Linked DNA regions of Homo sapiens. The protein of the gene in region 1 interacts with the protein of each later gene in a pairwise test. Each region holds a gene or a part of one and is shown in the gene's direction. Other genes may lie near its edges. The genes, in order: FGFR3, HS1BP3, BRPF3, SPRED2, TSPAN2, P3H3 and MAOB.

Evidence for each region.
Region 2: the proteins of FGFR3 (region 1) and HS1BP3 interact in binary tests that used the Homo sapiens proteins (3 or more experiments, as listed by UniProt).
Region 3: the proteins of FGFR3 (region 1) and BRPF3 interact in binary tests that used the Homo sapiens proteins (3 or more experiments, as listed by UniProt).
Region 4: the proteins of FGFR3 (region 1) and SPRED2 interact in binary tests that used the Homo sapiens proteins (3 or more experiments, as listed by UniProt).
Region 5: the proteins of FGFR3 (region 1) and TSPAN2 interact in binary tests that used the Homo sapiens proteins (3 or more experiments, as listed by UniProt).
Region 6: the proteins of FGFR3 (region 1) and P3H3 interact in binary tests that used the Homo sapiens proteins (3 or more experiments, as listed by UniProt).
Region 7: the proteins of FGFR3 (region 1) and MAOB interact in binary tests that used the Homo sapiens proteins (3 or more experiments, as listed by UniProt).

Annotation. Positions count from the first base shown.
Region 1 is NC_000004.12:1,803,293-1,806,329, forward strand, and holds part of FGFR3 (fibroblast growth factor receptor 3 isoform 1 precursor), read left to right. Parts: intron 1-399; coding exon 400-544; intron 545-1,037; coding exon 1,038-1,228; coding exon of another isoform or gene 1,229-1,234; intron 1,235-1,528; coding exon of another isoform or gene 1,529-1,531; coding exon 1,532-1,677; intron 1,678-2,062; coding exon 2,063-2,184; intron 2,185-2,266; coding exon 2,267-2,377; intron 2,378-2,457; coding exon 2,458-2,648; intron 2,649-2,758; coding exon 2,759-2,881; intron 2,882-2,964; coding exon 2,965-3,035; intron 3,036-3,037.
Region 2 is NC_000002.12:20,617,318-20,620,098, reverse strand, and holds the end of HS1BP3 (HCLS1-binding protein 3), read left to right. Parts: intron 1-853; coding exon 854-1,112; 3' UTR 1,113-2,281; downstream 2,282-2,781. UniProt on the Homo sapiens protein: May be a modulator of IL-2 signaling.
Region 3 is NC_000006.12:36,227,744-36,230,516, forward strand, and holds part of BRPF3 (bromodomain and PHD finger-containing protein 3), read left to right. Parts: intron 1-1,158; coding exon 1,159-1,313; intron 1,314-2,115; coding exon of another isoform or gene 2,116-2,116; exon of another isoform or gene 2,117-2,682; coding exon 2,683-2,773. UniProt on the Homo sapiens protein: Scaffold subunit of various histone acetyltransferase (HAT) complexes, such as the MOZ/MORF and HBO1 complexes, which have a histone H3 acetyltransferase activity.
Region 4 is NC_000002.12:65,422,600-65,426,099, reverse strand, and holds part of SPRED2 (sprouty-related, EVH1 domain-containing protein 2), read left to right. Parts: intron 1-3,500. UniProt on the Homo sapiens protein: Negatively regulates Ras signaling pathways and downstream activation of MAP kinases. Recruits and translocates NF1 to the cell membrane, thereby enabling NF1-dependent hydrolysis of active GTP-bound Ras to inactive GDP-bound Ras.
Region 5 is NC_000001.11:115,055,004-115,058,503, reverse strand, and holds part of TSPAN2 (tetraspanin-2), read left to right. Parts: intron 1-895; coding exon 896-967; intron 968-3,500. UniProt on the Homo sapiens protein: May play a role in signalling in oligodendrocytes in the early stages of their terminal differentiation into myelin-forming glia and may also function in stabilizing the mature sheath.
Region 6 is NC_000012.12:6,827,030-6,831,206, forward strand, and holds the start of P3H3 (prolyl 3-hydroxylase 3 precursor), read left to right. Parts: upstream 1-1,377; 5' UTR 1,378-1,411; coding exon 1,412-1,909; intron 1,910-2,829; coding exon 2,830-2,982; intron 2,983-3,323; coding exon 3,324-3,525; intron 3,526-3,609; coding exon 3,610-3,741; intron 3,742-4,177. Other genes in the region: GPR162 (probable G-protein coupled receptor 162), read left to right, coding at 1-175. UniProt on the Homo sapiens protein: Part of a complex composed of PLOD1, P3H3 and P3H4 that catalyzes hydroxylation of lysine residues in collagen alpha chains and is required for normal assembly and cross-linkling of collagen fibrils.
Region 7 is NC_000023.11:43,767,451-43,770,950, reverse strand, and holds part of MAOB (amine oxidase [flavin-containing] B), read left to right. Parts: intron 1-1,532; coding exon 1,533-1,644; intron 1,645-2,234; coding exon 2,235-2,297; intron 2,298-3,332; coding exon 3,333-3,485; 3' UTR 3,486-3,500.

The DNA of each region.
Region 1 (3,037 bases):
TGCCCGGTGCCCACCGGGCCGGCTCCGTGCCGTCTGTGAGCACCCCTTTGCGCCTCTCTCCACCCCTGCCCGCTGCCTGCTCGCTTCCGCAGCCTGTGTGTCCCTGTGTCCATCCTCCACCTGCACCCGCCCGGCTCTGCGCTAACCCGCATGCTGCCTGCCCGCCTGCCGCTCACCTGGGACAGAGGACTCGCCGGTGGAGGGGCCTGGCTTCGGGCTCAGTACCGGTGTACCAGGCGGAGGGCCCTCAGCCGCGTGGCGGTGACCAAGTTGGCGGTGGCTGAGGAGTTGGTGGTGGCGGCGTTTTCCTTGCAGCGGCTGGATCCTGCCGTGTGGACTCTGTGCGGTGCCCGCAGGGCGGTGCTGGCGCTCGCCTATCGCTCTGCTCTCTCTTTGTAGACGGCGGGCGCTAACACCACCGACAAGGAGCTAGAGGTTCTCTCCTTGCACAACGTCACCTTTGAGGACGCCGGGGAGTACACCTGCCTGGCGGGCAATTCTATTGGGTTTTCTCATCACTCTGCGTGGCTGGTGGTGCTGCCAGGTACCGGCTTCTGCTGCTGCTGCTGCTCCGCACTGTCTGGGGGACGCTGGCTCGGGACACGCCAAAGCTGCCAGGACGGACGGGAATCCTGTGACTTACGGCCGTCCCGCTTCTTGAGCCCTCACTCCTGGCCCTGTGCCCAGTGTGGGGACAAAGTTGGCCTGGCCCGGTCCTGGTCCCAGAGGGGCCCCCTCAGCCCCCTCGAGCCCACTTCCCATCTGGGTCCCCAAAGGCCTCTCCTGTGGCTCTGGTGTCTCCCGGGCGCCTGGTGGCGGTGTGGGACTGGCTGGCTCTGCTGGGCTCCTTCTCTCCAGGGTCTGGCCCTCTAGACTCACTGGCGTTACTGACTGCGAGACCCTCCAGACAAGGCGCGTGCTGAGGTTCTGAGCCCCCTTCCGCTCCCAGTGGTGCCTGCGGCTCTGGGCCAGGGGCATCCATGGGAGCCCCGTGGGGGGGGGGGCCAGGCCAGGCCTCAACGCCCATGTCTTTGCAGCCGAGGAGGAGCTGGTGGAGGCTGACGAGGCGGGCAGTGTGTATGCAGGCATCCTCAGCTACGGGGTGGGCTTCTTCCTGTTCATCCTGGTGGTGGCGGCTGTGACGCTCTGCCGCCTGCGCAGCCCCCCCAAGAAAGGCCTGGGCTCCCCCACCGTGCACAAGATCTCCCGCTTCCCGCTCAAGCGACAGGTAACAGAAAGTAGATACCAGGTTCTGAGCTGCCTGCCCGCCAGGCCTCCTGGAGCCCCACCTCGGCCCACGCTGGTCCTGGGCTGTGTGAGCCCTCTCTGCAGCCAGGCGGGCTCCCCTCTCCTCGTCTCTGCTCACCATGTAGAGCCTAGGGTACTTTGGGGCACGAAACATTCTAAAAATCTTCATTCAATGCTGGTGGAAGTCAGAACGCCCCCCCTTCTGGCCCAGCACTGACCCCCGGCTGTACCTCCACGCCCTGTCGCCCACGCGGCGCCAACCTGCCCCTGCTGACCCAAGCAGGTGTCCCTGGAGTCCAACGCGTCCATGAGCTCCAACACACCACTGGTGCGCATCGCAAGGCTGTCCTCAGGGGAGGGCCCCACGCTGGCCAATGTCTCCGAGCTCGAGCTGCCTGCCGACCCCAAATGGGAGCTGTCTCGGGCCCGGTCAGTGGTGCTGAGGGCCAGCGTTGGCTGTAGGGGGCTTGGTGGTGGGGGTGAAACAGCCACCAGTCAGAGGCCCGGCTGGGTTTAGGGGCCGTCAGGGATGTGGCGGATGTTGGGTGTGGCTGGGGTTCTGTGGAGATGCTCCTGGGACGGGTGTATGGCAGGGACTGCCCCTCTCAAGGTGCCCTGTCTGGAGGGGCAGCAAGGGCGGGAGGCTGTGGGTGACACTCTTCGTCCTTACGAGCAGGCTGTAGGGGGAGCATGGAGGGCTTCCTGGAGGTGGTGGCTCTGGGCCTCAAGGGCTGGGCCAGGCTGGGGTGGGGACCGTGGTGGGCTGAGAGTGGGCGAGTTTGCACACTCATGGTCCCTCTGCCTCCACTGCCAGGCTGACCCTGGGCAAGCCCCTTGGGGAGGGCTGCTTCGGCCAGGTGGTCATGGCGGAGGCCATCGGCATTGACAAGGACCGGGCCGCCAAGCCTGTCACCGTAGCCGTGAAGATGCTGAAAGGTGAGGAGGGGGCGGCCAGGGGTGCAGAGCAGGGCTGGGGGCGCCGCCGCCGCCTGACACAGGCCCCCCGCTCCGTGCACAGACGATGCCACTGACAAGGACCTGTCGGACCTGGTGTCTGAGATGGAGATGATGAAGATGATCGGGAAACACAAAAACATCATCAACCTGCTGGGCGCCTGCACGCAGGGCGGTAGGTGCGGTAGCGGCGGTGGTGCCGGCTGGGCGGCCCTCCTGGGCCTGGCAGCCCGTCTGAGGAGCCCGTGTCCCCAGGGCCCCTGTACGTGCTGGTGGAGTACGCGGCCAAGGGTAACCTGCGGGAGTTTCTGCGGGCGCGGCGGCCCCCGGGCCTGGACTACTCCTTCGACACCTGCAAGCCGCCCGAGGAGCAGCTCACCTTCAAGGACCTGGTGTCCTGTGCCTACCAGGTGGCCCGGGGCATGGAGTACTTGGCCTCCCAGAAGGTGGGCAGGGCGGCAGGTGTGGGTGGAGTAGGCTGGGCCCTGCCCTGAGATGCTGGGAGCAGCGGGGAGAGGTGGAGAGGCTTCAGCCCTGCCTCCCACCCCTTCCCCAGTGCATCCACAGGGACCTGGCTGCCCGCAATGTGCTGGTGACCGAGGACAACGTGATGAAGATCGCAGACTTCGGGCTGGCCCGGGACGTGCACAACCTCGACTACTACAAGAAGACGACCAACGTGAGCCCGGCCCTGGGGTGCGGGGGTGGGGGTCATGCCAGTAGGACGCCTGGCGCCAACACCGCCTTCCCACACCCTCCCAGGGCCGGCTGCCCGTGAAGTGGATGGCGCCTGAGGCCTTGTTTGACCGAGTCTACACTCACCAGAGTGACGTGT
Region 2 (2,781 bases), on another chromosome or scaffold:
AATCAAGTTCTGGAGAATCAGTGGCCTGGCCTGTTTCTTGCCCTCAGTACCCAGGGATGGTCCTGAGTGACCGTAACACTGCCAGGGCTTTTTGCCCACCCACCAGTGGGAGATTAGAGGTCTGGGGTCATGACAGAGTCTTGGTGGGCCCTGGCCGAGGCCATCCTCAGCTCTCACTGGGTTCCGTCTGGCACCCGTGTGGCCCACAGCGGGGCACTGTGGGCGGGCCAAGCCTGTACCACCATGGCTCAGCGCCCCTGGTTATTCTTTCTCTGGCTGAACTTGCTTTGGATGAGGGCTCAGCTTCTAAGGGCCGATGTCCTGTTCCTTCCAACAAAGGCACTGTCACATACCATCCCCTCGAGGTCACTCGGCCTCCTGGGACTCCAGCGTCCTCATCTGCGTGATGGAAGCACAGTCATGCCTCCCCAGAGTGGCGTTTTGAGGATAAGATATGATAACGTGTCTGAAGTGCTGTACAGAGCGGGAACTCTGTACATAGTAGCTGGTGGTTATTTCTGAAGGGATTGGAGGGAAAGCCCCCTACAGAAGGCAGCGTGTGTCAAGTGGGGTCACCTGAAGAGCAACTCTCAGGAGGCTGCGTGGGGCCTGCCCTGTGCCTGCTTTGCTGTGGGTGGGAGGGAAGGAGAGCCCTGGCCTTCGTGTCTCCTCTGGGCAGGATGGGTGGAGGGGCCAGAGTGGAATGGGGCAGAGCAGGGCGGGGCCTTGACCTGGCCGAGGCTGGGCTCCCTGCCGCTGCCCAGCCCCGTGTGGGCACTGGCATTGCCTGGGGTCTTGTTCCTGTCACGGGGTGGCAGTGTTATGCTCAGGGTTCCTCCCTGTGGTTCCCTAGAGTTGAAGAGGACTTGGACCAGATTCTGAACCTGGGAGCTGAGCCCAAACCCAAGCCCCAGCTTAAGCCCAAGCCACCAGTGGCAGCTAAGCCGGTGATACCCAGAAAACCAGCTGTTCCCCCCAAAGCGGGCCCGGCTGAAGCTGTGGCTGGGCAGCAGAAGCCGCAGGAGCAGATCCAAGCCATGGACGAGATGGACATCTTGCAGTACATCCAGGACCACGATACACCAGCCCAGGCCGCCCCCAGCCTCTTCTGACCCTTCCATGCTGGCCCCTGGCCCAGCAGGCCTGTCTGTGGGGACATCGGTGTGAAGGGAAGGGACTGGGCCCTGCAGGGTCAGAACCTCCCCACCCCCAGGGGAGGCCAGGCAGAAGCCTGGGTCACAGCACCCAGAACTGCATGGTTCCATTTTCTCCGGGGCTGTGGGGCCAAAGTAGAAGCCTGCGGGCTGCGGGAGCGGCTCTCACCCTAGGAGCCAGAGCCCAATGTGTCTTATTCCCCGTGGACATGAAGGGGAGGGAGGGTGTGGGGATGCCTTGCCAACCAGAAGCCCAGCCCCAAGGATGAAGCAAGACATGTGGGGCCGTAGCGAGGTGTCACATGGGGCAGGGAAGCTTCATGCCCACGGGTTCTGCCAGCCCCAGCACAGACCCAAACTGGGGCTGGGCCTCTATCCCTCCTCTGCCTCTGTTCGCATAGTAAGAAGGAGTGACCGGTATCCTCCCCTTCCCCTACCCTAAGCTGTAGCCTGGGTGACTGACTGGCCTGGGCCTGGGGTGGGGACGTCCCCAAGCCAAATTACTCCAGGGCCTCTGCTCCTCGTGGCTGCCAGGGGCCTGCAGGGTCTGGGTGGGTCTCCCAGGAGAGGAATACTGAGTGGGAGATCGGCTGTCTGGAGTGTTCTGATGCAAGTCTCTCTCTCCTGAGCCTCCTCTTGATGCAAGCTCTAAAGGGAGAAGTCAGGCCCTGCCTCTCCAGGGTATAGACGGCCCTGCTAGGCCCCAGTTCTTCCTCCTTCCCCCTTTCCCAGGAAAGGCCAGCCCAGTCCATGGCCTTCTTGGGCCTCTGGGCACAGAGCCAATGTTCGTCATTGCAGCTCTCAGCAAACTGGGTCATAGCTTTCCCCACAGCTCAGCCTGGGGCCTGGGCAGGGCTCCCAGCCTGCACCGCCTCCCACTGCCAGTGGGGCATGATTCTCTCAGGCTTCTGCCCCGAGGCCTTCGTCGTCCTCAGGGTCTGGACTTGGTCAGTGGCCTTTCACCAGTGGAGCTGCCTTCCCAGGGAGAAGGAGCCGTGCGCCAGGGCAGGGCCCGTGCCTTAGACTTCTCCCGACCCCCAGAGCGCTGGTACACAGGTCTAGGCACCACACAGTGCTTTGGAAATTCTCAGTGAATGATGTTTAATAAAGCAAAAAATGTCAAGGTGTCTTTCTTGGATATAATTCTTCATGTTCAGAGCTAGTTTTTTGTTTTGTTTTGTTTTGTTTTTTAATGAAACAGTAGTTTTAAAGGAAATGCAACCACTATTGCTCCTTGGCCCTGTCCTGCCTGGCAGAAGCATTGAGCGGGTGGGACTAGGACCTCAGACCCTTTTCTGATAGACACCAAAGCCAGCCCTGAGGGAGCCCCCGGCTGATGGTGCGGGTGGTTTGCAGCCATCAGTGTTGAGTGTCTCAGCTCCTGGCCCGTGCCAGGACCTGTCTGCTCTGTCCTGCATCTGATCACGTCCCTCTCCAGCTGTGGCGCCCTGTCCTGAGCAGCTTCCCCTCCACCAGTGCTAGAGTGAGAGGAAACAGGTGGTTTTGGGGTCGAGAGCTGACTCCCTCCTCCTCCGTCTTAACCCAGGCTCAGAGGGTCAGCTCCCTCCCCAGGGCTCTGAGCCAGCTCTGGGACAGCTCCAGCACCGGCTCCACCCATTTGCCTTCC
Region 3 (2,773 bases), on another chromosome or scaffold:
GCTGGGAGAGAGAGTTTTGATCAAATTACACACCTGGTGGGTGGGGTAAGGTGGTTCTTCCTTAGAGTAAACTCCTAACCAGAACAGCTGCTTTCAGCTGCTTATCTTGAGAGGGATGTAGTGAAATTGGCAGACAAGCAAAGGTAAATAATGAGAGCAGTTTATTGTAAGAAGGGGCCCACTGGGACAGCGTATAGGAAGTAAGATTGCTCTGTCTCTGGAGAAGGCTGCTTCCTCAGTAAGTTCCTAGTCTTTGCTCCCAGAGCTATTAGCTGTCTGCTCTGGAAGCAGGGGCTGTGTAGGAGGCAGTGGGCTGTGGAGGCCCAAGCCTTGTTTGGTTTTAGTACCAATGTGGTTTTAGCCAGCTACATTCTGCTTCTGTGCTTGGTGTTTTCCTCTTGTCAGCTAACACCTGTTAGCAGACTTCTCAGCATCAGCAAGAGATTGAAATGAGATGATGTGTGAATAATTAGGAGCTTTGGAAACTTTGAAAGTGCTCCCTAGACCTGGATTTTGATTGTTGTGTTGATGCTGCCAGGCATTTTGCTGAGCACCTGCCGTCTCTGAGCCAGGCAAGGTGGGGCTGGATGCCAGAAGCAAACCTGAAGGAGAAGGGCCCAGCTGCTGCCCTTGTGGAGCTTATTGCCTCAAGGATTAATGCCTCCAGTGGCCCTTGTTTCCACCCACATCATACCCCCCTCTCCATCAACCTCCAAGCTCATTCTCTAGCTATACACTGAGCCTCCTCTCTGATCTTACCATGGAGGTGTCACAAATATATCTGGTCCATGTATCAGGAAGGATTGTAGTCAGACAGGAAGGTAGTGGGTAACCAGAGACCTCGTTAGAACCAACTGGATGGCCTTCCCGATGCAAAGCCTTCTTCATAGCCGTGGTACCTAGGGAAGGCCCCCAAACATTTGAGGTGAATTGCAAAGGTACTAAGGGGAAATTGACAGGAAAAAAAAAGTGACCTCTACTCTTCTGTCCTAAGGGACATTGGAGGAAGGGGTTTGCCTGTCTGGTCTGGACATCAAAGATATCCCACTCAGGCCTGATACTCCCCTGGTGTGGGTGCTTCAGCAGTTGGTCCTGCAGCAGGGGCACTGCTCACCCTGGCCTCCCTCACTGAGTGCCCATCTTCTATTCTGCCTCCAGATCATCGATCCCAAGATGCCCCGGGAGGGCCTCCTGCACAATGGCGTTCCCATCCCTGTCCCCCCGCTGGACGTGCTGAAGCTGGGAGAGCAGAAACAGGCAGAGGCTGGAGAGAAGCTCTTCCTTGTCCTCTTCTTTGACAACAAGCGCACCTGGTTAGTGGGTGCTGCTGTGAGGGGGCTGAGGGGCACGCCAGGGGTCTGTGCCAGTGGTGCTGTGCTAGTGAGGTGTACAGAGGGGCCATGGATGTTACCAGTTACCCTGGTCTCCACTTGCCAGCAACAGGCCTGCACTTGGCATGTTAATAGTAACTGAGGGGTGTTGCAGATCAGATTCCCTGGGAAACACTCTGAGGTCGAGACTTGCATCAGGAGGCTATTGAGGAGAGCTGTGGGGCGGGAGCGATGCAGCACTGGGCAGAAGTTGAACTACAGCCCACTTGCTGCCTCAGCTCATCCACTGGGCACATCTGGAGCTGGGTGGCTCAACAAGATAAGAGATGTCAGGAATTGGGCCTGTGCCTTTTTGCCCTGTGCCAACTAGTTATTCAATGCCACTGCCCTGAGGGAGGGGTGTGGCCTGGGCCTGAGGCTTCCATGGTGGAGAGTGATTCCTAGAGAGGGACTCAGATGAGAGCCTGTGAGCTTCCAGCACTTCCAGTAGCTTCTGGGAAGCATGTTTCCGTCCTGAGGGGGGTTCTGGCCAGTGCAGTGTCCGCTACAGGAGACTTGCTCATTTATGGTTTACAACACTTAAGGTTTCTCTTAGCACCAACAAGAGAGTGCTTTCACCTTAGCTTCTATAGAGTGAGGAGGGAGAACTAGCTAATAAAAACAGTGATAATAGTAGCTGCCATTGAGTGCTTACTCCATGTCCTTATGCAGATTGCTTTATATATCTGATCTCTTTTAATCCTCATTTAAGTCTTCATTAATCCCCTCATAATCCATTTTGCAGATGAGGAAGTTGAGGCTCAGAAAGTCCAGACCCTGTAGCCAGAACTAAGATACAAAACAAGATCTTGCTCCAAAGGCTGTATCCTTAGCCACATGTTATATTCACCCGGGGAGCTTTAAAAACACATACACAGTGTGCAGGTCCCACCACAGATGAGTTTATCAGTTCCTGGCATCAGCTCTACTTCCTAGCCATCGCCCCCTAATTCTCCAACGCAAGGCGAGGCTCAGAGCCCTCCAGGGTGGCTCAGCTGGCCCCAGAGGGCAGCAGGTGGGCCTTTCTTAGCCTATGGACCCTTACAACTCTCCAAACAGAGTAAGGGCCCAGAGAAGGACCTAGCTGCAAAATTGATTCCATGCCATTCCCCCACCCGACTCCTGCATATCCTGCTTGCTGTCCTCACCTGCTAGGTTCTTGGTGGCCTCCTGCATGGAGTCCCCCAATTTGCTTCCCTCTGCCCTGTACCCTCTCCCTGGCTTTGCTGGTCCTGGCCAAGTGGGGCCACAGGAGCCCGAGCCCCCTGTGAGACCCACTACTGCCCAGCCTCTTACTGTGCTTGCATTTCAGGCAGTGGCTTCCAAGGGACAAAGTCCTGCCCTTGGGTGTGGAAGACACCGTGGACAAGCTCAAGATGCTGGAAGGCCGCAAGACCAGCATC
Region 4 (3,500 bases), on another chromosome or scaffold:
AGAATCTCTGCAGAAATCACAGTATTAACAATTTTCAATAGCTGCAGGGTTCTGCTGGAGTCTTAACACTTGAGGGTGGATACAGCTGTGCTGATGAACTCCAATATTGGCATCATTCTTGTATTGCCGGCTGAACACAAATACAGTCTAACAGCAAAATTTTCAGAAATTGAACAAGTGATAATAGAGGCAGACCAGAAAGTTTTGGTGTATGTGATTATTTGTTTGGGCTTGTTTTTACTAAGGTAAATTAGGCCGAGTTTTTTAAAAAGACCCCGTCATCTCAATAAACTTGATAACTTATTCTTAGAAATATTTAAAAATTACTATTTAAATCTAGAACATTGTGATGGTGCTTTTAAGGCATTTTCTAGGGCTCTTAGTGACTTTGAAGTAGAAGAAATATTTTGTATTGATGCTCCAGTGCCCCGTGGAACAAAATATATTTTTTATATGCTTTCCCTGGATAGACATGAAGGATTGTTACATCTTGACATATGTCCCATGTCATGGAAAGAAAGTCAGGCCAGGATCATGGGAGTTTGCTAAATTAAGTAACAATTGTTTCATAACTACCCATTTCCCTTTCTCATGTAACCTTTATCAACATTATGTTCACATGTGGCATATTGCACACGTATTATCAAATTGTGCTTATGTTCTTCCTGCTACTCTCAAAGGGTAGTTGAATATTTATTTAAAAACAAACTTTCTGTGTTTACTTGCACTTAGAGGGTAAAGGTAAAGAAACAGATTTTGACTTCACCCTTAGCATTTAACACTTGTGATTGAAGAGATTAGAACAAATATTGGGAGCTTCTAAAATGTATGGTTTTGGCTCCTCTGTGTCCTGAAATAACGATTTTTCAGATCTGGTTGTTTTTATTCTTTGATATATTTCCTGTGGTCCATTTATAAATGCTTAAAACTTAATTATCAGTTAAGTTTTTAATTGACTTTCATTTGTTCATCTGGTAATGACATCTTTGTCTTTTCATTTTCATTATTTATTCCTCTTGTTTCTTTTTCTTACTGCTTTGCTTTGGCTCTGGCCTCCAGTACTGACTTTTCAGATACGCACTGTTTATTTTGTATTTGCATCCATACTAACTGAGAATGCACAGAGAAGCTTGGCCCATCTGTCTTTCTAGGTGTGGGAATAGGTTTGTTTGTTTGTTTGTTTGTTTTTGAAACAGACTCTTGATCTGTTGTCCAGGCTGGAGTATTCCAAGTGATCCTTCTGCCTTGGCCTCCTGAGTAGCTGGGATTGTAGGTGTGCGCCACCACACCTGGCTAATTTTTAAATTTTTAGTAGAGGTGAGGTCTTCTTAACGTTGCCCAGGATGGCCTTCAGCTCCTAGCCTTAAGCAGTCCTCCTGTCTCGACCTTCCAGAGTGCTGGGATTATAGGCATGAGCCACCTGCACCTGGCATGGGAATAGCTTTATCTTTTATTTTTATTACTTTTTTTTTAGAGATGGGGTCTTGCTCTGTTGCCCAGGCTGGAGTGCAGGGGTGCAATCATGGCTTACTGGAGCCTTGAACTCCTGGGCTCAAGCAGTGCTCCCATCTCAGCCTCCCAAGTAGCTGCGACCACAGGTGTACACCACCATGCCCTTTGAGAATAATTTATTAACCCTCATACCCATGGCCTGGCAGAACACTGAGCACATAGTAGGCTTTCTGTAAACAGTTATCAATTGGTTGAAGTAACTATTCATTAATTGAAAAAATAATTGTACCGTGTATAAAAATTTAACAATTTTTCACAATTTAACAATTATCTTTTTTGGATACCTATATCCAAAAAAGACTTTGAGTTGCTTTTTCAAAACTACTAAAGGAGAGGCTGCCATGATGGTAGTGGAAGAATCATGGACTTTGGAGTGAGACCGTACCTCTTCCCCTGCCACTAAGGGACCCTGCTAAGTATCCCAAGCCACCAGCCCTGGATTAATGTAAATGAGGTTCATTCTGCTGTATACCTAATAGGCTGTTAAAAAGTAGAAATGGACCAGGCATGGTGGTTCATGCCTGTAATCCCATCACTTTGGGAGTCCGAGGTGGGCCGACCACCTGAGGTCAGGAGTTCGAGACCAGCCCAACCAAGATGGAGAAACCCCATCTCTACTAAATATACAAAATTAGTTGAGCATGCTAGCACATGCCTGTAATCCCAGCTACTCGGGAGGCTGGGGCAGGAGAATCGCTTGAACCTGGGAGGCGGAGGTTATGCCAAGCAGAGATCGTGCTAAGCAGAGATTGCACCATTGCACTCCAGCCTGGTCAACAAGAGCAGAACTCCATCTCAAAGAAAAAAAAAAAAAAGCATAAATGAGGTAGCCTTGGTAAAACATTTTAGCACAGCACCTGAGAAATTGAGATTCAGTAGCATCCATCTACCCCAGGTCTGTCCCCCATCATGTAATAAGGTGTTCTTTCTTTTCAGAATTTACAAGGCAGAGGAGATCCATGAACTTTACAAGGCAGGAAACAAGATTTTCACTTTGTACCTTAGAGAGCTGAAATGACTTGCTCAAGGCTCCTCAGGGAGCTTGTGGGAGGATAATTAGGATTTAGAAGTCATGTTCTAAGACTGACTGTTTCTTTTGGCTTTCTAATGGTGTCCTGGTAGTTTTTGTACTGTGATAATCAATAATGCCCAGCTGACCATTGGCCCCTTTACTCAGTGATCCCAGTTGGCTGTGCTTTTTGAGATTCTGAGTTTTATAGCTTGTCTGTTCTCTTAGGGTAAGAGTACCTACCTGTAATAGCATCCTTGGCTCCCCTGCCATCCCTACGCCATTCCTGATATGTGGTCTAGATACCTTATTACCAGCAGCATTCAAATTCTCTCTAAAACAAAAGTCAGTAGGCTTGGTGTGGATGGGTGGGACTGACCATCCTCTTAGGAGTCACTTGGCTTATGACATGTTTTGTCTACTTGAATGCCATGTTTGGCATTTCATTTTATTTTTCCAGCCAAGGAATAAAGTGGACGATGGAGTGGGAATACAGACATAGTGCTAGACTAGAGGTTTAATTTATCAACATCCCAGTAATTTTACTCATTTTTATAGATCTTTTAAAGCAGCGTAAGTGTGACTATAGTCTTAATATAGTTATTACATTTCTCCCTTTTGCTTAAAGGTTAAGTCAAGTTTGATTTTTTTCTCAGGCTCAGACTCGCAAAGCAAATCTGCCTTGCTAGAATGATGTGCCTGGGCTCAACAGCTCACCTCTGGCCCTGAAGGCCTAATAATTGGTTGCCTTCTCATTGATCTGTGTGTGAGCACACTTCAGAACAGTACTCTGCTGTTTGTTAAAATAAAAAACAACAACAAAAAACCTTTGAAGACCTTACCGTCCATTCTAAGATGTCTTTTGTACTAAGGAAAATTGGGGATACTAGATTATAGGTGTTGATTTGGAGTGTGATATACTGTGAATCGGAATAACTTGAATTTAGAATGTACTTAGGCCCCAGTTGCAAAATTATGT
Region 5 (3,500 bases), on another chromosome or scaffold:
TCTACCATTCAACAGCCTTGTGACCTTGAGCAAGTTACTTGGCCTCCCTGATACCCACGCAGCTCCCTCATTTGTAGAATGAAGGGTCACAGGAGATGGCTACACTCCCTTCTGGAACATTCAGTGGGACTGTGCTGTCCGTGGAGTGCTCAGAGCTACATGCAGTTAATCACAGAAGGCTTACAGAGGAGATGGGCCAGGCCAGAGTTATTCTGATTTTTTAGACACTGTGATATGAAGAAGTAGCTGTGAATTCCTGGGCCAGGTGTTTTCAGGTACCTAGTTCTTGTCTAGGACAAGTATGTCTTGGAAAGTGGCCACCATTTATACATTTATACGGTTTCACCTCAGCTGCCGCCAGGACCTGAAGCAGCACACAGGTTCTTTTGTCTTAAAGGGCCAGCTAGCCTAAGCAGGACACCTGTTTGCTGGCCAATCTTCAAATCTGGTCTTTTGGACCCTGGAATTTCCTGCAGCCACTTCTCCCCTCTTCCCCAGACTATTCCCAGCTAATGAGTCCTTCTGCAGCTCATAAAACTTGAGCTCCTCAGCAGGTTAAATGACTCCCAGTCTGAAAGAAGGAATCTAAAGCCCCAACCCCTTTCTAAAAAGTAGCAATTTACACAGACACTGTCAATTAGCTTCTTGCCTTGTTTGGGTTGCCTTGAGTCACTTCCCATCATAAACTCAGATGGCTTTAGCGAAGTCATTTTCTTGTTTTGCCAGCATGATTATGTGATTCTTCACTCTCCTTCCAGAAATAGCAGTCTGGGTTGCAGTGACTGGGCCTCGGAGCTGCTTTGCCGCCTCGGCACCCCAGTCCTTAGCAGGGTGCCCAGACTTGTAGCTGCTACTCCTCCCGCCTGGTCCTGAAGTCTCTTTTCTGACTCTCTAGTTTCAGTGCTGTGGAAAAGAAAGCTCCGAACAGGTCCAACCTACATGCCCAAAGGAGCTTCTAGGACACAAGGTAAGCTTCTACCAAGGTTCTTACTCTACCTGTAGTATCATGCTGCTAGCTTAGGAAGCCATTGAAGGTAGAATCTCGGATGGGATCTGCATTTTACTGAATTTGCTCTAGTGGCAGCATAGAGGATTGATGGAAAATGAATAGCGTTGAGCTGAGAGACCCATTGGGAAGGCTGCTGTCCTTGTTGTTAGCAAGAGATGTTAAAGAGGGCCCTTTAGAAAGTGACAACTACAGGAGTGGTGACCAGAGAAGAGAGGAGAATCCATTACTGGGTTTTTGGCTTCACCACCTACATAGATGATGGTGTCATTTATGGAGCTGAGGGAGAGAGGAAAAGGAGCCAATTGTGGAGAAAAGAAAATGAGCTTTGTGTTTAACATGGTGATTTTGAGGAGCCAGTGGCACTTCCAAATGGAAATATCCAGTAGGCAGTTGGAAAATCTGGTTTGTGGCTCAGGAGAGAGGTCTGAGTGTCAGCACTTGATGGGAAACTTAAAGCTATAAATACGGATTTGATCCATTAGACTTGGAAGAAAAGAAGGATGAGGATAGATCCTTGGGGGACAATTTAAGGGTGGGCAAAAGAAGAGATGCCAAAGAAGGAAACTGGGAGGGGCGGCCAGACACAAGTGAGGAGACAGCACGGGAAGGGGAGGGAATGGTCACCAGGCCCAGGTGCTGCTGTTGAGGGCAATTCAGTATTGATCAGCTGCCTACCTTATGTTCGGCACTGTGGATGCAAAGGAGAAGGAGAAAAAGTTCCTACTCACAAGGAGCTTGCATTGCAGTCTGATAGGAGGGATGAACATGAAGTCCATACGGTCCAGTGATTAGGAATGCATGGAATGTGCAACGTGCTCGGAAAGCACAGAGGGAAACGCACTTAGGAGAGGCGAGAGGCTGGGGGATGGGGAAGGCTGACAGAGGTAATGATGTCTCAGCTAAATCTTCAAGAATGGAAAGTAATTATGCAAGCATTGGGCAGAAAGCGGGAGGGGGAGGCCTGCGTGCCGAGAGACCAGCGTAAGCAACAACACAGAGGCAGAAATGACATGGTTTGTGTGGGGAACTGAAAGCCTAAGAAGGTCTACTAATAACTGCTGAAAAGCTGGCAGGATTTAGCATGCAAGGAACCAACTGGTGACGTGCTGTGAGGGATGGATTGAGGACAGAGCCCAGGTTTCAGAGAGCGAGATGTGAGGAGAGAGAGCATCCTTTCAAGAAGTTTCGATTTGAGCCAAGGACACAGAAAGAAAGTTTACAAAAGTCAAAGTCCAAATTACCATTAAACATATAGAAAATATAGAAAATTAAAAGTAATATTTAAAATCAATAGCAAATTAAAATGAAGAGATGCTGTTGTTTAATCTATGAAATTGACCAAGTGTTTTTCCTTTCCCTTAACAATAATACACAGTTTTGGTAAACGTGATGTCGTGAGCATTTTCAGAGAAATTAGTAAATAGTTTTAAAGGTCAGTATGACTATGTAAGACTAGAGGATTAAGTATGTTTATGCCCTTCTATCCAGAAATTCCACTTCTCGGAGTTTATTCTAAGGAAAAGGAATCAGAAATGCAGACAGACGTTTTTGTGCAAATCATGCTCATTACATGTTATTCATAAGAACAAAACACTGGACAGACCCTTAATATGTGGCAATAGGGGATTGTTTGGATAAATTGTAGTATATTCATATGATGAAATGTTTTACCACCATTAAGAATCATGATTTCACCTGTAATCCTAGCACTTAGGGAGGCAGAGGCAGGCAGATTGCCTGAGCTCAGGAGTTTAAGACCACCCTGGGCAACATGGTGAAATCCCGTCTACTAAAAATACAAAAATTAGCCAGGCGTGGTGGCATGTGCCTGTGATCCCAGCTACTCAGAAAGCTGAGGCAGGAGAATCACTTGAACCTGGGAGGCAGAGGTTGCAGTGAGCCGAGATCGCGCCACTGCACTACAGCCTGGGTGAGAGAGCGAGACTCTGTCTCCAAAAAAAAAAATAATCATCATAATCATGATTTCAAAGAAATTTTTAGTGAAACAAGGCATTTTTAAAGTTGTAATATTAAGTTTAAAAAGCTCACTGTTGAATATAAAGAATGACCTAAGGGTGTAGGTGTGTTTGTGTGTGTAAGTATCACCAACAAATTTATTACCTTTTATGGTGAGAATACAGACATTTCTTTTTAAAAAAAAAAAAATCTCTTTTCCAGATTTCTACAAGAAGCATGTATTCCTTTTGTGACTAAAGCCAATATACCTTTTGTACATTTGTTTTTTACAAAAAGAAGCTGGCAATGAAGGGAAGGAGGGCCTAATGGCAGAACTAGAGGAGGACAGTCTCGAGTGTTGTTTTGTTTGTTTTGATTGAAGAACTGAGCATGGTGATAGGATAAGTAGAAATGTCAATGGATAAGGAGAGGCTGAATGTATAGGAAGGAAAAAAAGTAACTGGCAGTGCAGGCTTCCTGAGGAGCTGAAAGACCCAAAGCAGGATATGAAGTTAACTGTCTTTTATTATTATTT
Region 6 (4,177 bases), on another chromosome or scaffold:
GGGCCTCTCACCCCGCCGACTCTCCCTTGGGTCCCCTGAGAGCAGAGCCGTTGGACTTCCTTTGGGACTAAGCGCAGGGAGACGCTGCTCCCTGACGGGGGGTGAAGAAAGTGCAAGGGCTTGGGGAGGATCCTGGGGCCCAGGCAACCCCATCTTTCCCCAGCTGACCCTGTGAGCCCAAGCAGGCCTGCTGAACTCAGAGGAGAAAGCCTGAGTGAGTAACACCTCATTCTGGCCGAGAGTAGGGCAGCTGCCTCCAGACTCTGGGGAGACGGGCGCTAGATTTGGGGCTCAGAAGGCCCTGCTCTCTCCCATCCAAGTGACCAGATGCCCTACTCAGCTTCCATCACCCCTAGCAATATGTATTAAAGTCTGAAGTGTTGCCATGGAAACCTCAGTGTCCAGTGTACTGCGGTGGAAAGGGGCTTGGAGGGTGGAGTGGCTCACAGGGGACACGACAGAGCAGGGGCAGCAGACAGAGGCACAGAAGGACACATGGAGAAATGATCACATGCTCCACCAGGCAGCCTCGCACAGGGAAGGCTGGGAGGAGCATATCCTGCTGGGGGCGGGGCTTGAGGACACACATCTTCGTTGGTTGGGGTATGAAGGATCTCTGTTCAGATTTGTTGAGGTGGTTTTAGAGCGTGGCTCCAGCCCCAGTGCCCAACTCTCCTTCTAACCTCAAATCCATGCAGGGGCTCACTTTATGGGCAGGAAAGGTTTTGGGGCTGATGCAGTGTCCCGGGCCTGGACACCTCCTCCTTGCTGCATTTTAAAGCTCTTTCTCCAAAGGAGTGCAGGGGTGGATGAGTGTGTGTGTGGGCGGGGGTGGGAGTGCAGGGGTGGATGAGTGTGTGTGTGGGGGAGTGCAGGGGTGGATGAGTGTGTGGGGGGGGTGGGAGTGCAGGGGTGGATGAGTGTGGGGGGGTGGGAGTGCAGGGGTGGATGAGTGTGGGGGGGTGGGGGGGGGCGAGGGGGGGATCGGCGTCCACACTCCTTTTTCTGGACCCAGAAGCGTGTGTGTGGAGGGAACACAGCCCCAGTAGTTACCCCCAGACCTCAGGGGCTGAAGTCACCGCTGGGGCTGAAGTCATCCTTCATGGATGCCCAGGCCTGCTCCAGTTCCCGCCTTTTGCCCTCCTCCTCCCAGTTTCTCCCTCTTATTCCACACTAGACCAGCTTTGTCCACTCAGCACTCTTCTCTCTCCATCTTTTCACATGGGCCTCTCCCACCATCGGGTCTCAGCCCCATCTTCTCTCTCTCTCTCTCTCTCGGCCTCCCTCATTATTTCTCCCTCTCCCTCCGCCTCTCCATCTCTCCTTCCTCCCCCTCCCTCCCCTTCCCCCCTTTCCTCTCCCTCCCTCTCGGCTCCCGCATTTCCCCTCGGCTGCCGGCGGCTCCGACATCATGCTCCGGCTCCTCCGGCCGCTGCTGCTACTGCTGCTGCTGCCTCCCCCGGGGTCCCCTGAGCCCCCCGGCCTGACCCAGCTGTCCCCGGGGGCGCCCCCGCAGGCCCCCGACTTGCTCTACGCTGACGGGCTGCGCGCCTACGCGGCCGGGGCTTGGGCGCCGGCCGTGGCGCTGCTGCGGGAGGCGCTGCGGAGCCAGGCGGCGCTGGGCCGGGTGCGGCTGGATTGCGGGGCGAGCTGCGCGGCCGATCCGGGCGCCGCGCTCCCCGCCGTGCTTCTCGGGGCCCCGGAGCCCGACTCCGGGCCGGGACCCACGCAGGGGTCCTGGGAGCGACAGCTTCTCCGTGCAGCGCTCCGCCGCGCAGACTGCCTGACCCAGTGCGCAGCACGGAGGCTGGGCCCCGGGGGCGCGGCGCGGCTTCGCGTGGGGAGCGCGCTCCGGGACGCCTTCCGCCGTCGGGAGCCCTACAACTACCTGCAGAGGGCCTATTACCAGGTGGGGAGCGGGCCGGGCAGCTCCGAGGGTCCCAGCCCTCACCACGACGCTGTCCTACTTTGCGTTGCCCAGGAGTAGGCGGAATGCTGTTGCCCGGGCCCCGCACGGGGCTGGGGAGCGTACCGCGGGCCTCTGCGTAGGAGCTGGCTAAGCGACCGCGAGGACCTCTTGAGATCGCAGAGGAGCAGCCGAGGGGGAGTGCGAGCAGAATGGGAATGGGGCGGGGAGGTCGTGAGGTGGGACGGGAGCAGATCGAAGATGGAGGGACAGGGCCGCCTCTTCCTAGGAATGAAGCGGAGGCGGTGGGGGCGAAACCGGCTCTCGGACGGGAAGTGTGCGTGGGTGTGTGTGTGTGTCGGGGGTGGTGGTGAGTGTGAACCTTCGCTTGGGGCAGGAGGTAGCTTCGGAAAGGAAGGAGCAGACGGAGGCAAGGTTGGGGTCCTCCGAGGCCAGACCTCTGCGGGCGGGGAGGGGACAGCACGCCGCAGCCGCCGGTACCGCAGCAGTTGCCTACGTGGCTGGGGAAGCGGGGCGCCGGTTGTACTCACCTCAGCTCAGGGTCCTAGAGACCTGCGGGTTTTGCTGGTCGCTGAGGTCTCCCCCACTTCCCCACCTCACTTAAGCCATCACTTCCACCTGGTCTCCCAAATTGAGGTCCTGAAGTCCTGAGACCCATGTCCCACCCAACTCCGACGTCTTTAGATCCCCTTTCCCTCGGTGCCAGCCTTCTGAGAGTCCCAACGTTCTGGCCTCTAGGGGATCTGCAGTTCGGGCGGTGGGCGGTTCTGATTGGCCAGTCTTCCATGAGGCTCTGGGGCACCCAGAGTGTGTGTCTGGGGTAGGGTGGGGAGGCTGGCCAGGGGGCAGAGGTCTGCCCCCCGTCCCAGGGCTCTGATGCCCTCCTCCCTTCGCCTCCTCAGTTGAAGAAGCTGGATCTGGCAGCTGCGGCAGCACACACCTTCTTTGTAGCAAACCCCATGCACCTGCAGATGCGGGAGGACATGGCTAAGTACAGACGAATGTCGGGAGTTCGGCCCCAGAGCTTCCGGGACCTGGAGACGCCCCCACACTGGGTGAGAATCCCAGCACCACCCCTGTCTTGCCACCAGCCTTTTCCTGGCTGGATACACAGGCCTCACTAAACTGTGCGTTGTGCTGCTTGAGCATACAGATGGGGTAATGATCCTCAGCGACCCTGGCTGGGAGTCCTTCTCTAGGACTTCGTTTCCTTCCTGGATGATCACTGAAATCTGATGTTCTAACATTATGATTCTGAGGCCCACCCTTATTCTTCTCCACGGTGAAGAGGGACATGGAGTCCTTGCCCCAAATGAGACCAACACCCCTCTCCTCTCTACCTCCCAGTTTGGCAACCCCTGGATCTTAGGTGACTGACTGCTCCCTTCCCCAACAGGCAGCCTATGACACTGGCCTGGAGCTACTGGGGCGCCAGGAGGCAGGACTGGCACTGCCCAGGCTAGAGGAGGCTCTTCAGGGGAGCCTGGCCCAGATGGAGAGCTGCCGTGCTGACTGTGAGGGGCCTGAGGAGCAGCAGGGGGCTGAAGAAGAGGAGGATGGGGCTGCGAGCCAGGGGGGCCTCTATGAGGCCATTGCAGGTAAGGGTCCCGTGTGTGAGGGGGTGGGTCGGTGCCCAGGGAGGGGCATGAACAAGCTGAATGGCTTATGGGTTTCCTCTGCAGGACACTGGATTCAGGTCCTGCAGTGCCGGCAACGCTGTGTGGGGGAAACAGCCACACGCCCTGGTCGCAGCTTCCCTGTCCCAGACTTCCTTCCCAACCAGCTGAGGCGGCTACATGAGGCCCATGCTCAGGGTCAGTTGGGGAAGGGTGGAAACGGGGAGTGAAGATTTGCCTCTGCTGCTATCCTGAGCTCCATCTCTCTATCCCTCCCATCTGTCTCTGGATTTGTAGTTTCACTGTCAGGGCTGCATGGGAACCATCACTTCACAAGGACTCTAATTTGCCCTCCTTTGGCGCCTGTGACAAGCTCAGGAGATGGGCTTCCTTCTGCCTTGCTGCTTCTCACCTTCCTTTATTTTCCCCCCTCTTGCTCTTCTTTGAACTCTCCAGCTAAGGTATGTTTGCACCAGTGTTTGAAAGAACCGGCAGCTGAACTTGTCTGCCAGTGGGAAGGGGGCTCTTGGAGTTAGCTGTCTGGCCTCTGGAGACCACCTTCTCCAGCACTGCCTCTGCCCCAAGGATCAATGTGCTCTAAGTATTCATCCCCCAACCCCTGACCTTGTCGCTC
Region 7 (3,500 bases), on another chromosome or scaffold:
GACAGGATGAATAATGGCATGTTGACGGTGCTTTCCTTATGGTATTTTTGTCAGAGCAACAATGAACTGCCCCTCTTACAGGCCAAGTGCTATGACATTTCAGTCCCTTGTATAGCATGTGGGCAGTCTACTAACTATTAAATATTATAGGGTGATGATACACCAGGCAAAGAATATAAGATAAAAATAGAGACTTTGACATCTGTTAGACATGGTTCAAATCCTGGCTTTGCTATTTTCTAGGAGTGTGGCTCTTGGCATATCACTGAACATTTCTCCAAGCCTCAGTCTTCTCATATGTAAAAATGAGATAATGATAATAGTAGCTACATCACAGAGTTCTTTAATAGATTGAAGAAATAATGCAGTAGAGAGAGGAAGTATAACTAAGTGGTTAAGACTGTAGGTTCCAGAGTCAGATTGCCTGTGTTCAAATACCAACTCTGCTACTTACTAGCTGTGACCGAGAGCAAATTACTTTGTCTTTGTTGCTGGTTAGGTTCCAGGAAGCAGACCCTGAAACAACGATTAGCAGACAGGATATATATTAAGGCATGCCCTTAGGATTGGCAGCTGTGGAAGGGAGAAGGAAGCAGGAGTGGGCATAGGGAGAACTTGGGCTGCAGTGCAGTTCCAGTGAAGGCCTCAGCTGACCCCAGAGGAAGTTCCAGAACTAGAATGGCCCTTCAGAGTGGGAGGTCTCAAGTTGGAGCTTGGGAATCAGGTATTTACAGCCCGTGGTGATCAGTCACTGGATGCAACTGCTATTGGAAGGAGGCATGACCTAGTAGGTAACATAGTTTTTTTTAGCAGAGGCAATCTCCAAAGAGGGCTGACATCAGTAGGCCCTCTTCTGGCAGCACTCCCAGCAGCTGGGAATAAGTCTTTCATTCTTGAAGGGGGCCTGCGTGGTTCATCACAATGTCCACCACAGTCTACCTCCATATTCTTATCTGCAAAATGGTGATAATAATAGTACCGACCTCACCAGTACAGGCAAGTGTTCAAGGAATAGGAGTTATGGAGCCATAGTCAGACTCTCAGATTTGTTAAATGTTACTGATTGAAAGGGTCTTAGAAATCAGTGGACCATTCCCTTTAAGAGGCAAGGAAGCCAGAGCACAGTGAGAGTAAGTGATTTGCCAAGTTCACTAGTGGAATAGCCAGTGGGGAATTGGGGGCATGTATCACCTTGCCACAGAGCCAGTGAGCCATAAAGGGAGCCATGTGACTGGGCTTACACAGTCCCTCACTTCATGTTGATGAAGCAAATACATAATTTACGTCCATTAATGTCAGCTCCTTCACCTGCAACTCTTGGTGCAGGAGTGAACTTTGGCTTTTATTCTATTTTGTTTGTGACAAGGATCATGTAAGAGCTGGAGGAACCACATAAACATTATTCCAAAATTGCCAATGTCCTTCTTGATTGTTTAGAATCTGTGGAAGCTGACCAGCATTGGTCTTTATGGGAAAACTTTTCTCTGACTCTCTGAGACTGACCACTTTTGCCTCTTTGGTTTTGTTCCAAGGGTTCTACGCCAGCCAGTGGACAGGATTTACTTTGCAGGCACCGAGACTGCCACACACTGGAGCGGCTACATGGAGGGGGCTGTAGAGGCCGGGGAGAGAGCAGCCCGAGAGGTAGGGTCTGGGGTCATAGATTATGGGGAAGGAGGCAACTCATGGTCCTGACATGTAGGTCAAAGATATCTGAGAGCCTGGAGACCAACTCTCCAGTAACCCCCATCTTAAGACCCATAAAATACTATTTTAACTATTGTCTCAGGTGAAGTGAACACCTTAGCCCGAAGTAATAATGAAAATACCTAACATGTCACCCGAAGTAAAAAGAGCCCATGGGGCAAACGATCAACCTGACTATACTTGAAAGGTAACCTAGGTCTGATATTCTAGAACCAAACATGCTTCTATTAGGACTCAAAATTCAATTCATTTCACAGGAAAGATTTTCTGACAGTTCCTCTGATGTCATCCCTATTTGAGGTGTGTTCATAACTATTAAAATTTATGGTAAGCCTAATGATTGGAACCTCTTATACCACAGGAGAAAGACCTTTTGGCGCCTCTTAAAGGTTGTATGGAGTGTTCTGGCCTTTACCTTGGTGTTTTTGATGGATATCTCAAGAGACAGTTACTTAGTCCTTTAGGGAGCAGATTAGAAGAAAGATGGTGTCACTTTTGCTATTTGCCAGTGTGTTCTTTCATTTCAGATCCTGCATGCCATGGGGAAGATTCCAGAGGATGAAATCTGGCAGTCAGAACCAGAGTCTGTGGTAGGCTATGTTTTATTTCATGAAATTAGATATCTTTTCTCTAAACCCATTATTTTCAAGAAGAGCACACTTGTATATATTCACATACCTTTTCCTAAGTGATTCAACTAAGTGATTTAAACATGAATGTTTAAATAAGTATCATGGGTTAGGGTAGAGGTGAGAGATTTAGATGAACTTTGATAAATTTGTAGCTGTCACATTCATTACAGATTATTAGGAAAAAATATTTTTTGATGAGGAGGGAGACATTTCTCGGAGACTTCTAAAAATAATAACTCAATAAATGCCTGTCAAATAAATATCTAGCCTGGTGATTCTCCACATGAGGTAGGAAAAGAAAGGAAAGTGTGTTAGCATCTCCTGTCCAGGGACAAACAAATGGAATGAAATGGAGAATATTTAGATTAAAATTTTATTTTTAATATACTCATCATTTTTGTAATAAAATCCTAGGAAGTTTTCCTGGCTGGAAGGAGGGATGCATAGAGGTTAGAGTGCAAACGCACTTTAGAGGACAAAGTCACAAAGGTCAGAATTATTGCTCTATCCTTTTAAGTGTGAAGTCAAAGAGAATAGGCCTGCCACTCCACAGTCATTCTCTTAGTGCTTCTGCCAGGGATGGGATTGTGGGCTGTAGGGACCATTGATTCATTTACTAACAAGTATTTATGGCACACGTGTTCTGTATCAGCCATTGTGGCAAAGGCACAGCAGCATTTTTGTGGAGCTCAACATCTGGTGGAGAATGCAGATGATAACCAAAAAGTACAGAACAGTGAAGAAGACATGCTGAGAAAAAATGCAAAAGGAGAATGTCATCCTAGGCTGGGGTCTCAGGAAAGAAAGCCTCCCTGAGGAAGTGAAGGGTCCAGTGAGGAAGACAGGGTAAACAGTATAAGCAGAGGGAACATCGTGTTTACTGGTCTAGACGTTGGCAAGAATGGGTCATGTTCAGAGAGCTGGAGAAAGTACAGACTTTCTGGAATAAAGTGCACAAGCCCTGTACTAATACCCAATGTTTTCTGAACCTAGGATGTCCCTGCACAGCCCATCACCACCACCTTTTTGGAGAGACATTTGCCCTCCGTGCCAGGCCTGCTCAGGCTGATTGGATTGACCACCATCTTTTCAGCAACGGCTCTTGGCTTCCTGGCCCACAAAAGGGGGCTACTTGTGAGAGTCTAAAGAGAGAGGGTGTCT